Homo sapiens: one gene and its partner. The protein of the gene in region 1 interacts with the protein of each later gene in a pairwise test. Each region holds a gene or a part of one and is shown in the gene's direction. Other genes may lie near its edges.

Region 1 (3,165 bases):
AAACAATATTAAATTCCTTACTTACTAAATCTTACATAAACAAAGATAATTCTTATTTGAGCTGCATTCATAGCTTTAGAACCCTCATGCCAAATGTTGACATCTAGCAGAGATAAATAATGTATGTTGAGAATTCCAAAGCCATTTCTAATTCAATTTCACTAAAATTTTTAAAACCAGCTTGTTTATTGAAGATTTGCTTAAGTCACATGAACTTGAAAAAGCATTTGGCTTAAAGTCTATTTTTCCGAAAAGCATTAGATTTAAGTGCCTTTGTTAAGCCAATTAATTAGAGCTTTTTTCTACATTTTAAGTAGTGAAATGTCATATCCATGACACATAAATACATAGATGTATTAGACATGTAGATAGAAGTAGATCTTATAAATTCCTAAGGCCTTTATTTTTTCCTCGTATTTTAGATTTACAATTTCTTCATAACCTATTTTATTGCCCTAGGCAATTGTCAGCTAGATAGCCCTAAATGTGCATATTAAAGGAACCCTTAGGTAAAAAAAATCAGATAGTGAAATTTGCATCTCAAAGCACCGAGAGAAAGAGTCTGGTGATGTTAGAGGGAGATTGAAGATGGATGCCAAATCAAACACAAAATTGTAGAAATATAGGATTGTATAAGGAGACCAGTTGTATTTAGATAGGGACTACCTGTCTTTTAACTGGATCTCTGAGCTCTGGGCAGAGCCCACACTGAATCCTAGGTCTCCAAAAAGGGAGAATTACTATGAGGCTACACCAAGTGACGGTTTTACAGTGTACTTTTTTTTTTTTTTTTAACAAAGACATTTCTAAGTGTCCAAGCTACTTTCTTCCTTAAAAATCCAAGAATACTCTCTGTTCTAATAACTGTTTTAGTCAAAAACTTAGAATTACCATTCATCTCAGCAGTAGCCCAAAAGTAAATGGTCTTCGAGGTGCATGTGAAGGAACTGTAGGAGGGAAATGGGATAATTCACATCTCCGCCAATAAATAAATGTAGCCACACTAGCGTGGGGGATTTGAGGTGAGACATCGAAAATACTAAGTCATGGTGAGGGCTGGAAGACAAAAGAATGAATCACTTAATAGGAATGGCTGTGGGGAAGGGCTTGAAGGAATCATCCTCTGACTTCCATGTGAACCGTGAACATTAAACATGGAGAAATGAGGAGCGGCGGCAGATCGGTTTGGGATGCATCTTCAGGGGATGCTGAAACAACAGCAGCATTTGGTTTGCTCTACACCCCTGTCACCCCTCGCCCGCAAGCCCAGGGAGTGGTCAGCAGTGGGGCTTTGTGATGTGAAGCCACCCTAGGGCTGCCATTGGCTGGGACACTGCCTGTATGATCAAACAAAGCTCAAGGGTGTGGCTTTGCCTTGTCACCAGGAGGGTATACATAGGGAGGGCAAGAGCTCCGGGCCACTGAGAAGATTCAAAACCTACAAAAGCCTGCCACTGACATTGAAGAACCAATATATACAATGGACAAACAATCCAGTGCCGGCGGGGTGAAGAGGAGCGTCCCCTGTGATTCCAACGAGGCCAACGAGATGGTAAGACTGTTAGGTTCTGAAGTGAAGGCGAGGGTGAAAGAAAGACACACAGAGCGGGGGCGGCTCAAACAACAACACAGGAATATTGCAGACCATTGTGGAAGTGGGGGGCCCGCTTAATGCCAGAGCCCACCGCCGCTTACAGGCTGGGGTGCTTGTAGGTAGGGGTGGGAGGGGCCTGGGCAGTATGGCTTGCTGCCCGGCAGGATATTGATAAGATGTTCTTATGATCAGGTGGTTTGGCCCTTTTTCTGGTGGAATATCATTGTGGTGTTCCTTAGAACGCTGCCAAGCAAGATATGATAGGGATGTTTCTTCAGTTGGGCCTTTGTCCGCCTTGCGGACAGGTGGTTAGGCAGGATGTTTCTCACGGCCTGAACCCCCATGGGATGTTTCACTTTGACCAAGGTCTGCAAAATAGCAAAGAACTGACAAAATGGTGCAGTTTGGACTCACAGGTGACCCTACCCACGCTCCTCTTCTTCTTCCCCATAGATCCCTACTCTGTGCTTCAACCTTCTTCTTCTCTGGATCAAACCCCTTCCTCAACCCGCATTCCTTCTTCTCATGAAGTCCCCTTGCTATCCAGTCTCTATCCTGTTCACCCAAAATAATGTCCTCCTGGCCTCTCCCTGCTTTCTTAACAGATGCCGGAGACCCCAACTGGGGACTCAGACCCGCAACCTGCTCCTAAAAAAATGAAAACATCTGAGTCCTCGACCATACTAGTGGTTCGCTACAGGAGGAACTTTAAAAGAACATCTCCAGAGGAACTGCTGAATGACCACGCCCGAGAGAACAGAATCAACCCCCTCCAAATGGAGGAGGAGGAATTCATGGAAATAATGGTTGAAATACCTGCAAAGTAGCAAGAAGCTACATCTCTCAACCTTGGGCAATGAAAATAAAGTTTGAGAAGCTGATGGCTGTGTATATCTCTGCCTGTTTTCTGATGGTGGCGGGGGAAGGGAAGGGAAGGGAAGAGGTAGGCATTTGAGAAGGGAGGGATATGAGGTCCTGTAGGGTTGGTGGACAGACCCACAGGTTGACAGTAAGCCAGACATTGTAAATAAGGCCTGGGGGAGGACTGATTCCTAAAGAAAATTTTCTTCTTAAAATTTTATCTCACAGGAAGTGGAGATGTGTATATGTTCACGCAACTGTACCCGGCAGCACATAGTTCTGCTGAATGGACATATCAAAGGTATTCCCATCCCCTTTCCATTTGATATTTTCCTAGGCTAGAAATAGATGCTTTATAAAGAGCAAATGTTCTGTAAAACACAAAGCACAATACAAAAGAAGATAGTAGATGTAGGAGTAAGTAAACGGCAGGAAAGCATTGCTTGTGATGAAATGATTGAAAAGCCAATTCTAAAACAAAATGTTCAATGCATCTTAAATATTTGTTAGTGTTTTAATGACCTCAGCAGTCTTTAATCAAGATAAGTATACTTTAGAAATGTGTTGATATCCGCAAAGGGTGAATATTCAAAATCGCCATGACTTGGGAAAAGGAAAGTAAAACACTCTTAAGTATGAGGAGCTTTTTCCCATGGAATGTGAACTGCAAGGTGGTGAGAAGGGTTAGGTGTGATGTGGTGAGATCATTT
Region 2 (3,818 bases), on another chromosome or scaffold:
ATTAGACTGAAACCAAACAAGGTCTTTTTTTTTTTTTCTTCGAGGTGGAGTCTCGCTCTGTCACCCAGGCTGGAGGGCAATGGCACGATCTCGGCTCACTGCAACCTCCGCCTCCCGGGTTCAAGTGATTCTTCTGCCTCAGCCTCCCGAGTAGCTGGGATTACAGGTGCACACCACCATGTCCAGCTAATTTATGTATCTTTAATAGAGACAGGGTTTCACCATGTTGGTCAGGCTGGTCTCGAACTCCTGACCTCGTGATCCGCCCGCCTCGGCCTCTCAAAGTGCTGGGATTACAGATGCCAGCCACCAAGCCTGGCCCAAACAAGGTCTTTTTAAGCAGGGTGGGGGTTTCATCTAGGGAACTGGGTGCTTAGAAGCTCTCTCAGAAGGGTTGGAGGAGTAGGTTCTTGACTGGAAGGGAGCCCAGGACGACACCGAACCATCCTGTCAGGGGTGCCGCCATGAGGAGGGGGGAGTCAGGAGCCGCTGAGTTCAAGGAAGGTGTGACCGCTGCAACAGTCAAGTGTAGAGCTACACTGTCCCATAGGGTAACCACTGGCCACACATGGCTATTCACAATTAATTAAAATGTAAACAGAATAAAAATTTCAGCTGGGTGTGGTGGCTGACACCTGTAATCCCAGCACTTGGGAGGCTGAGGCAGGTAGATTGTGTGAATCCAGGAGTTTGAGACCAGCCTGGGCAACATGGCAAAACCCCATCTTTACAAAAAATGAAAAAAAAAAAACAAAAATTAGCCGGGCGTGGTGGTGGGCGCCTGTAATGTCAGCTACTTGGGAGGCTGAGCCAGGAGAATCGCTTGAACCCAGGAGGCGGAGGTTGTAGTGAGCTGAGACCGTGCCACTGCACTCCAGCCTGGGCAACAGAGTGAAACTCCATCTCAAAAAAATAAATAAAAATTTAAAAAATAAAAAACAAAAATAAAGTCTTAAAATTCTAGATGCCCTTTGTCCCAGCATTCCCACATCTAGGAAATTATCTAAAGAAGTCGTCTTGGATGAATAAAGCTGTGGGAATTTAGAAGAGGAGTAAGGAGGGATCCCGGGACAGGAGTGACAGGAGGAATGGTTTCTGTTCAGGTTAACATGCTACAGAAATGTAAAGAGGAATGGCTGCCATGGTGTCTGGGGTGGGGGTGTCCCAAAGGGCAGCAGAGGGAGGGGAGAGCCCTCATGCAAAGATTAGACTTGGCCCTGAGGCAAGAGAATGTCCAGATGGACATGGGACCCCAGCTCTGAGCCCTGCCTCTTCTCTCTCCCTTCTCAGGACCCTGCCCGCTCAGCCGGCTTCCACCCCAGTGGCTCTGTCCTGGCTGTGGGTACAGTGACTGGCAGGTAAAGCTGAGGAGAGCATTTCGGGAGGCCTTCTCTGCTCCCTGGGGAACTGGCCCTTCTTCCCTCTTTCCTACTTTCCCAAATCCCACTATTTACCGAGCCCTGATCCCTCAATATTCCTCTGGCTCACTGCAGCCTCTGCCTCCCAGGTTCAAGCGATTTGCCTGCCTCAGCCTCCCGAGTAGCTGGGATTACAGGCGCCCACCACTATGCCTGGCTAATTTTTTTTTATTTTTAGTAGAGACGGGGTTTCACCATGTTGGCCAGGCTGGTCTCGAACTCCTGACCTCAAGTGATTCACCTGCCTCAGCCTCTCAAAGTGCTAGGATTACAGGCGTGAGCCACCGCCACTGTACCTGGCCTTGTTTTGTTTTGTTTTTTGGGGGGACAGAGTCTTGCTCTGTCGCCCAGACTGGAGTCCGGTGGCGCGATCTCAGCTCACTGCAACCTCTGCCTCCCGGGTTCAAGCAATTCTCGTGCCTCAGCCTCCTAAGTAGCTGGGATTACAGGCACGTGCCACCACGCCTGGCTAATTTTTGTATTTTTAGTAGAGACGGGGTTTTGCTATGTTGACCAGGCTGATTTCGAACTCTTGACCTCAAGTGATCCACCCGCCTCGGCCTCCCAGCGTGCTGGGATTATAGGCCTGAGCCACCGTGCCCAGCCCAGGTCACTTCTGGGGTCCCTCTGATCCCTCCCTTAGACCCCACAGATTGCGGCCTCTCTCTGTCAGATCAGCTCACCCCTCCTCCCCCCACCACGCCCTCTCCTTCAAGATGGCTGCTGCTGGACACGGAGACCCATGACCTGGTGGCTATCCACACAGACGGCAATGAACAGATCTCAGTGGTCAGCTTCTCCCCAGGTAAGCGGCAGGCCTGGGACACCCAAGCGGCAGGGCCAGGGGACAGAGGCTCAGAGCTCTTGGCAGGGGGAGGGGTGGAGCCTGCGAAGCGAGGCCTAGGAGGGATGCAGTGGGGATGGAGCTGGGGACTGTTGAGGGGGCTGAGTCTGGGCGAGGAGGGGATGGAGCCTGGGTGCCTCCTCATAGCCCCCCTCCCCCTCCCCCAGACGGGGCGTACCTGGCCGTGGGCTCCCACGACAACTTGGTGTACGTGTACACGGTGGACCAGGGCGGCCGCAAGGTCAGCCGCCTGGGCAAGTGCTCGGTGAGTGGGCAGTGGCCCCCAGCCCGCGCCGCCACCCCGCCCAGGGGGTGCAAAATTAACCAATTTTCTACCTCAAGGGAGCGCAGCTTCAACACTCAACTGATTCTGCCCTGATCAGAGCAAGGAGTCTTGGCCACGTCCACACATTCACCACCTCGTGTGTTCTAAGCCCGCCCCTTTGTGTAGCCCCGCCCCCACGTGCTAAGCCCATCTGTGTAGCCCCGCCCCTCACGTTCCGAGACCGCCCCTCACGTTCCGAGACCGCCCCTCTGTGTAGCCCCGCCCCTCAACATTCAAAGCCAGCTCCTCCGTGTCTAGCCCTGCCCACCTGTTCTAAACTCCCATTGTGTTCTAAGTGCTTTTTGTCTAGCCCTGCCCATCACAGTCTGGCCCCGCCCACAGTATTCTGGCCCTGCCCCCATACTCCAAAGGCCTGTGTATCCTTCCTTTAGTCCCCTTGTGTTCTCGCCCTACCTCTGTATTTGACTTCCACTTTCCTGATTTAATCCTGTCCCCCTCTCCTTGGTTCCGCCCTCTGCAGCTCTAACACCATCCCTTCCCTCCCCCGCAGGGCCATTCCAGTTTTATCACCCACCTGGATTGGGCCCAGGACAGCAGCTGCTTTGTCACCAACTCCGGGGACTATGAGATTCTGTACTGTGAGTTCTCCGGGACCCAGAGACATTACTTCCTCCGTCTCATTTGCAGACTTCCCTGAGTTCTGGGAGGGGAGGGAGGGGCTTCAAGCCTCGCTCCCTTGGTATTCAAGGCTGGTTCTGATTTGGAATTTAGGGACCGCTGGCTTCTCATTTTCTCCCTGGTATACCCCACTTTTAGTCAACTCCTCCCCTTTCCGGTCGGATGGGTAGGATGCAGGTTTCTTTTTTTACATTTTTAAATTTTTAATTATTATTATTATTATTATTATTATTATTATTATTTTGAGACGGAGTCTTGCTCTGTCCCCCAGGCTGGAGTGCAGTGGCGCGATCTCGGCTCACTGCAAGCTCCGCCTCCCAGGTTCAAGTGATTCTTCTGCCTCAGCCTCCTGAGTAGCTGGGATTACAGGAGCACACCACCATGCCCGGCTAATATTTGTATTTGTATTTTTTTTTTTTTGAGATGGGAGTTTCCCTCTTGTCTCCTAGGCTGGAGTGCAATGGCACGATGTCGGCTCACTGCAGCCTCCGCCTCCCAGGTTCAAGCGATTCTCTTGCCTCAGGCTCCTGAGTAGCTGGGATTCCAGGTGTCCACCACCACGCCCAGCTAATTTTTAAAATATTGTTAGTAG

What was found.
Region 2: the proteins of SPANXA1 (region 1) and EML2 interact in a two-hybrid assay, tested with the Homo sapiens proteins (one large-scale study listed by BioGRID).

Annotation. Positions count from the first base shown.
Region 1 is NC_000023.11:141,582,994-141,586,158, reverse strand, and holds SPANXA1 (sperm protein associated with the nucleus on the X chromosome A), read left to right. Parts: upstream 1-1,420; 5' UTR 1,421-1,480; coding exon 1,481-1,552; intron 1,553-2,199; coding exon 2,200-2,421; 3' UTR 2,422-2,485; downstream 2,486-3,165.
Region 2 is NC_000019.10:45,615,170-45,618,987, reverse strand, and holds part of EML2 (echinoderm microtubule-associated protein-like 2), read left to right. Parts: intron 1-1,290; coding exon 1,291-1,358; intron 1,359-2,134; coding exon 2,135-2,223; intron 2,224-2,429; coding exon 2,430-2,527; intron 2,528-3,098; coding exon 3,099-3,186; intron 3,187-3,818. UniProt on the Homo sapiens protein: Tubulin binding protein that inhibits microtubule nucleation and growth, resulting in shorter microtubules.